Homo sapiens: one gene and its partner. The protein of the gene in region 1 purifies or fractionates together with the protein of each later gene. This does not show direct contact. Each region holds a gene or a part of one and is shown on either strand. Other genes may lie near its edges.

Region 1 (3,913 bases):
TTAATTTATTTATTATTTAATTTTTTTTTTGAGACAAGGTCTCACTCTGTTGTTGCTCAGGCTGGAGTGCAGTGGCGTGATCACAGATCACTGCAGTCTTGACCTCCTGGGTTCAAGCGATCCTCTCTCTTTAGCCTCCTGAGTAGCTGGGACTAAAGGTTCAGGCCACCACGCCCAGCTAATTTTTTTCTTTTTTTTTTTTAGTAGAGATGGAGTCTCGCTATATTGCCCAGGCTGGTCTCAAACTCCTGGGCTCAAGGGATCCTCCTGCCTCAGCCTCCCAAAATGCTGGGATTACAGACGTGAGCCACTGTGGCTGGGTAGCCACTTTAGACAGCAAAGACATCTCTGAGGAGGGGACATGTAAGCTGCGATCTGAATGGAAAGAGAACGACACAAGTGAAGAAGATCTGTGGGAAGAGCATTCCATACAAAGGCTGAGGTCAGGAACTCCTCCAGAAGCTCATAATTGCACCAGAGGTGCTTACAACCCCAAGCAGTGACAGTGGCACAGAATATTCAACATCAAATGCCTAAGCTAATTTCCAGGCTGAGAAAGGTAAACCATCCTTCTCCTGCCTGCAGTGCTTCTATCGGTCCTGAAAGAGACAGAGGAGGTAAGGGAGAAGAATTGGTACGAAATGGTGCAGAGCTGGTCTCAGAGGGCAACAACAGCCAGCCCTCCATGACCACACTCCCACCGTGCACTCACGTGCCCCTCTTGAAGCGGCTCTGATCCTGTGACCTAACCAGTTTCCACCTGGCTTCTCTCAGTGCGTTGCCATATAGTATAATTTTTTGTTTGTTTGTTTCGTGTAGGGTTTTGTTGGTTCTTTTCCAAGTATCAATCAAAACTACATGCCAACGTCCACTCCTTGGAAATAATTAAATGACATGACGTGCCTGATTTTTTCAGCTGGTGATGCACTGTAATTTGCATCTGCTGAAGGAATTTATCTTAAGTCCTGAAGCCCAGCCACTTGAGACAACTGAGGTGATTTTTCTGCTCTGCTTTTGCTCATGCGGATGGTGCGTTATTGTTAAACACAAAAGTGGACTAATTGCTTCATTCTGCAACCTACTCCGTGAAGAAAGCTGCTCTTCTTTGTGAAGAGAATATGTTCATGTTTTGTTCATGAATTCCATGCAATTTCCCATCCCCTTGTTAAGTAATGTAGCTTCTTTATATTGGCAAAATTCCCTTTATCTTGCTGTGACCTGCGCTTTGTCCTCCCGAGCAGAGCAAATCATCTGTGGTTTAAGAGCAGCTTTGGATTCAAGTCCCCTTTTCTCCTGTCGAGGGAAGTGAGTCTATGAAATGGCCTTCATCTGAAAGCCACAGCGAAGCACCTCCTAGCCCAAGTCTAGCTGCTGTGTGGCAGCTCCAGCGGCGTGAACTGTGACTGCCCTGCAGACACCTATCAAGCGCTGCGTCAGCTATTAATAATAAAATCAACTCTTCTCCCTCCCCCCCGCGAGGGGGGTTCCCTCGTCAGGGCCCAGAACCCGCTGGGGAAGAATCGGGGCTGGCGTGCGAAGGAGCTGGCGGCAGGGGGTGTAGGATGCGGTGTTCCCGAGGCGACAGATGAAGGATTTGGGTTGTGTGGGAAGTGAACTGCGGAATTCCTCCCCTTGGTTTCTGAGGGGGGCTCTGAAGGAGCCAGATTAGGATGCAGAGCGCAGCCCGGGCGACCGAGGGCGAGGAGGCGAGCCAAGGACATCAGCCCGAGGGCGCCTCGAGACGCCCCGCGTGGACCGCGCTCCCAGCTCCTCGGCCTCGCCTTCCAACCATCCGCCCACCGGCCCCAGAGCAGCGTGCCCACTGTGAGCGCCCCACCCTGCGTCTGCAGGTGGGTGGGTCAGAGAACCGCAGGCACAGAAGAGGGTACCCAGCTTCCCCTCCGCCAGCCCCGCGACCGCGGCGCGCGCGGCCTCGATCCGGGTTCCTAGGGGCGGCGCGCGGGAGGGGGCGGGGCCTGCGCGGCAGCGTGGGCGCCAGGCGCGCGGGAGGAGGGAGCCGGGAGGAGGGGGCGGGGCCGCGCCGCCCGCGCCGCGCTGGGCGCTCTCGGCCAATGAGCGGCGTCCACATGCCGCGGCGGCGGCGAAAGGGGAGGCAGCGGCCGATAAATGCTATTAGAGCAGCCGCCGCGGAGCCGTCCCCGACGCCACCTCCTTTTCCTTCGCCGCAGTTTCCTCCGCCGCTGTCGGGCGTGCGGCGCTGAGGGACCCGGGCGAGCGCGCCGCGCACCGCCCCGCCGGCTCGCCTCCCTCGCCGCGTTCCGCCCTCAGTGGTCTGCCGGGCGCCCCCTCCTCCGGCCCGGGCGGGGCCTCTGATCGCCTCAAGAGAGCGGGGAGGGGGCTCGGGGGCCGCGGCCTGCCCTCCCGGCGGGCGGCTGAGGGCGAGGGAGGCCCTCCCTTCTGGCGAGGGGAGGGAGGGTGGGTCAGGAGCCCCCAACCCGCCCTGCGGAGCTCGGGGCCGCGCGAGGGGCGGTTGTCTGGGGGAGGGGGCGCGGGGTGATTCAGCGCCCGGCGAGGCGGAAGCGGCCGCAAGAGGAGGAGGGGAGAGCCCGTCCGCGCCTGGGCTCCCGGGGTGGCACGAGCCCGCGGCCGGAGTGCGAGGCGGAGGCGAGGAGGCCGCGGGGACGGGAGGCGAGGCCGGCCGGGCCCCCGAAGCCATGGAGAACGCGCACACCAAGACGGTGGAGGAGGTGCTGGGCCACTTCGGCGTCAACGAGAGTACGGGGCTGAGCCTGGAACAGGTCAAGAAGCTTAAGGAGAGATGGGGCTCCAACGGTAGGTGCAGGGCGCTCCGCTGCAGGGGCCCGGCGCGGCCGGGAGAGCCAGGGAAGATGGCTGACCGGGCTCCACCTCGTGGGCTTCGGCTCCGCGCCCGCCGACAGCTGCGGGCGGAGGGTCGGGCCAGCGCGCCGGCCCCGCGGGAGAGAAAGGGGCTGCGGTCCTCGCCTCGCCTTCCCTGGACCTCTTCGCTTCTCGGGCCCTCGACCTTTTCGGCGCGCAAGGCTCGGAGGCTTCTCTCCAGCAGCAGCCGGCCCCGGTGGAGGGAGGGACGTGGCTTCTGCAGCTAGGTTGAGCCCGGCAAGACGTTTTCTCGTCCCCTGCCGATTTATGAGGAGTCGAGGTCGTTGGAAGGCCTCTGACCGTTCTTGTCCTACCCAAAGTTACACATCTGGCAGAAGTGATGACATCGCTGAAACCACTCCTAGGTTCAGGAGCCCGAAGTGATTTCACGCTTAGGGCTAGACCTCAGGCCATTGATTACAAAGAGTGCATGCTTCCTTGAGATATCTTCGTGGTATGCCCTCTGCTAAAAAAATCGGATATTCTTATAGCTAGGTCTGTGTTTTAAAGATATTGATGCTTAGAATTGTAGCAGTTCTTTTTAGAAAAACGAAGTGCTAAAATGTCTCTCTCTTTTTTTTTTTAACCTCCCTCTTGACACATTGCTTGACGAATTTCTACATTCTACAGAGTTACCGGCTGAAGAAGGTAATCTTAACATGCTGTTTCTGTTTTTTTTCCTCTGTTGGTGTGCTGATGGTAAGATGACAGTTAAAACACATGTGTTTGTTTCTTACAGGAAAAACCTTGCTGGAACTTGTGATTGAGCAGTTTGAAGACTTGCTAGTTAGGATTTTATTACTGGCAGCATGTATATCTTTTGTAAGTATAAAAAAATTTATTTTCTTTCCCCCCAAAAGCTGAAAGTATTCCATAGATAAATCAGAAAACAAATGATGTCCATTGGGTGAAAACATATTTGGAGTTGCAAGCTGTGTCTCTATGTTTAAAAACAATCTGGGCATTTTAAAATTACAAAACAAAACACTTGAAGCCATTGGTATTCAGAAAATAGATGCCTGACATTTACAGTGTGGTTAGGAGTTGTCCCAGA
Region 2 (3,913 bases), on another chromosome or scaffold:
CATTCCAAGTGTAATCCCAATCTCTTGACATTACAGAAGAAACCACTAATTTTCAGAAGCGTCTGAAGTCTGGGAATTTGTCAATGCACTGGGCACAGTAGTCCTTGGTGCAGCTTAGACATGCTTAAATGAGGCAAACCAGACTAACCCATCAATTCGGTCAAATAAGAAGTAGAATTTTTCTTCTAAGTTACTTTGAAATTGACCAATTCAACAAAATGACAACATTGGAGAGCTCTTTTGGTGATACGTTAACATTTCGCTATTGTATTTAACATTTTAAATATTGTAGAGCTAATTCATAATCTGAGATGTACAAAATAAATGCTTATCCCATAAACCTAATATCAACACATGATATACTACAAATAATTTGATTCCAAATGAATTAAGAAAAAAGGTTTTCAAGTTTCAGATTCTTTTACCAAAAATATCCTGGGAATTTGAGATTGTGCCTATGCAGCCTCAAACGGATGAATAAAAAGTAATGTAGGCCGGGCACCCGGTGGCTCACACCTATAATCCTAGCACTTTGGGAGGCTGAGGCGGTTGGATCACCTGAGGTCAGAAGCTCAAGGCCAGCCTGGCCAACATGGTGAAGCCCCATCTCTACTAAAAATACAAAAATTAGCCAGGCATAGTGGTGCATGCCTGTAATCCCAGCTACCCAGGAGGCTGAGGCAGGAGAATCGCTCGAACCCGGGAGGCGGAGGTTGCAGTGAGCTGAGATCACGCCACTGCACTCCAGCCTGGGTGACAAGAGCAAAACTCCATCTCAAAAGAAAAAAAAAGTAAAGTAAAGTTTTGTTTTTTTCCCCTTTGGGTGGTGAGATTAAAAGTAATTTAAAAGTTTTAAATACTTTAATATATTTTCACATGTCCTACAATAAATATATAACTTTTTTAATTTGACAAAAAATAATTTTGAGTGGTTACAAAAAGGGACAGGTGTGGCTTGGTAACTAGAAAAACATTCCCAGCCTGGGAAACAATCTAGTGAGAGCTTGGAGGCAGAAGACAGAACTCTGATTACATTCAAGGAGTTTGCCAGATGGCAACAGATAACTGCCAATGTTCGGTTGCACTATAATTATTATACACTCTCTGTCACTTCAGCAAGCGCTCTTTTCACAAGACAAGTGGTGACAGAATGTTGTATTAAGATTACCCGTTGCTAAGCTTATGTTAAAATGAGGAAATGAAATGGAAAGTCTTGTTTTGGTAATGTCTCTGGGGTATGAGGAATGGAGGGAAAGGTTTGACTATGAGCATAACTGCATAGAGAATTTTGTTTGTTTATGCCTTTTGGGAATGCATTATTTTGATTGACCCTAATTGGGAATTCAGAGGGGGAGATTTCCTCTATTATCTATAAAGAAAGGATCTGCTGAGCAAACACAATTGCTAGGGTCATGTTTAAAGTACTTAATTGATCTGCTTTCAAGTCTAATTTAACACTTCAGGGGCTCCAAACATGTGATACATTGGTTACAAACTCATCTTAGTCTAATTTTAGTTAGTGTTCATATTAGAAAGTTATATAATACTTTTCTTTCTTTCAGATATATTCTATAATTCACATTTTTCACTAATTTTACCCAGTTCTCCTTCCACTCCCAATCTATCCAAATAACTGAGTTGAACTGTGTGAGTTTACTGCTCTATTAATTTATTGCCAGAGATATACAAACCATGACTTCCTCGGCTGTTTCAGATGAAACTGTAGATCCACGTGTAAACTTGCAATGCACAGCTTAGCTGGAAAGTTACGTGGAGCAGGTGACGGAGGGGATAGCTTTCACTGCTTGGACTAAAGTCAGTTTTGAAAGAGCTAAAGATGCCTATTGAATTCTGGAGTGTGTGTGTGTGTGTATGGGTGTGCATATGTGTGGGTGTAAGGCAGCAAACTCTTCACATTTCAAATAACTAAAGATATGGGTGGTAAAATGAAGTCACATTTTTACACCTCACAGGCTGACTAGGGAGAGCAGTCAAATGCAGCATCGATTGGTTAAAATTAGTCTATCATTCTTGGTTTATGATGTTTTAAAGACATGTTAAAGTTATTCATGAAGATGTAAAAGACACATTTAAAACCCACATCAATTGCACTAAAAGTCAACTGGAAACAGAAGGTTTTTAAATCCTGGTGGTGGCAAATTGGCAGCCAAAGGAACAAAGTCTTAGTCAACATATTTCCATGTCCCCCGAACACAAATAGCCTCGAACCTTCGGAGGGTGTTCCTTTGAGATGTTTCATCAGTGACATCACAGTGATTGCCAGCTTCCACGGACTACTTTAGGCGCTGCCCAGAGTCCAGGAGTCCAGACAGCCTGGGAGGGGAGAAGGAGTTGGAGCTCAAGTTGGAGACAGCGAGGAGAAACCTGCCATAGCCAGGGTGTGTCTTTGATCCTCTTCAGGTAACTGCAGGATTTTTATGCTTAGCATACGGTGTGTGTGTGTGTACAAGCTGCAAATGAGAAAGGCAGAGGAATGTTTGCATTTCTTAATGAAATAGGCAATGCCCCTTGGATACAGCATGCCTTAAGATATAAAGTGAGTACTATTGCTTTCTGTTTTCCTTTTTTTTTCTCCTAAGGGTATGCATTTTCTCCCTTCCTAGTAAAAAAAAATTTTTTTTCTTTCTTGTATTATGGAAGATGGTCTTTTTTCTATCTTCTCTAAGTCTCCATTCAAAGAAAGCCAATGTCAAACTTCCTGCACAATTTATTCAGAGCTTTTTGGGTTTTAGTTCATCCATTTGCAATCACTGGATCATATGGCATGACCTTGACTTCAGGGAATGTTTAAAATGAAACCCAAAGTGTCTTTATTGGTTAAAAGCAGAAAAATGGAACTTGGCTGATCTGAATTTCTGCCTAACTGGTTCATTCTTCCTAAAGTGTATAAATGTGTGTGAAAGGAATGTTCACACCACACCTTACAGTTAGCATATGTGTTGATTGAATTGAATTCACTAGAAATTCTCACCTTAACTCTTCATGTTTTATTCATCTAAAATCACATAAAACAACAAATATTCAAGGTCACCATTAAAGTGCAAGAAGTAGTAAGAGGTAAATCCCAAGAAAGAAAGAAGTGTGATGGGTAGCCTGCTAATTCAGAAATGACTGAAAAAAAAAAAGTTAAGAGTGCATAAACATACACAGTTTAAACAATAACTGAAAGGCAACACTTCTATAATTATCATCCAGGTCAAGAAACAGATCATTGCCAGCACCCAGAAGCCCATTCTTGATCAACCCCCATTCTGCCCCAAGATGTTGGGATCCTCTTGTCCCTGTTATTCTTTATAATTTGACCATCTATGTCTGCATGCCTAAACAATATGATTAACCTCCCTATTTTTGACATCATATAAATGGAGTCATATTCTCTGTTTCTTTTGTAAATTCTTCTTTCACCCAACAATTATATTTGTGAGATCTACCCATTTTCTGTGTAGCTATAGTTCATATATTTTCTTTGCTTTATGAAATTCAAATGTATAACTATACCACAATTTATCATCCATTCTGCTGTTGATAAACATTTGAGTTGTTTCCAGTTTGGAGTTATTGTGATAATATTGCTGTGAACTCTTTATTTATGTAACCTGGCACGCACGTCCTTGACTGTCTTAAGGTAGAAGTGAAATGCCAGATATTAGAGAATGAACATTTTCAACATTAATTCTAAGAAAGCTAAATTGTTTTCCAAAGTGGTTGAAAATTTATGCTAACTTTGTTTAGCCAGGCCAGTTAATTGCAGTGACAATTCACTTGTGTCATAACTCCTAGGAATTCTAGTAACTAGTTCCAGTCTGCTAATTCTAGCTTTGCCTCTAACTTGTTATCTGTCATTACACAAACATCTTAATCTCCTCTCTCTAAAAGTCAGTTTCTCAGCTGT

What was found.
Region 2: the proteins of ATP2A2 (region 1) and SLN purify together in Homo sapiens (affinity purification with western blotting; 2 studies listed by BioGRID). This does not show direct contact.

What each region holds. Positions count from the first base shown.
Region 1 is NC_000012.12:110,279,115-110,283,027, forward strand, and holds the start of ATP2A2 (sarcoplasmic/endoplasmic reticulum calcium ATPase 2), read left to right. Parts: upstream 1-2,132; 5' UTR 2,133-2,675; coding exon 2,676-2,793; intron 2,794-3,489; coding exon 3,490-3,507; intron 3,508-3,598; coding exon 3,599-3,681; intron 3,682-3,913.
Region 2 is NC_000011.10:107,710,471-107,714,383, reverse strand, and holds the start of SLN (sarcolipin), read left to right. Parts: upstream 1-2,327; 5' UTR 2,328-2,421; intron 2,422-3,913. UniProt on the Homo sapiens protein: Reversibly inhibits the activity of ATP2A1/SERCA1 and ATP2A2/SERCA2 in sarcoplasmic reticulum by decreasing the apparent affinity of the ATPase for Ca(2+). Also inhibits the activity of ATP2A3/SERCA3.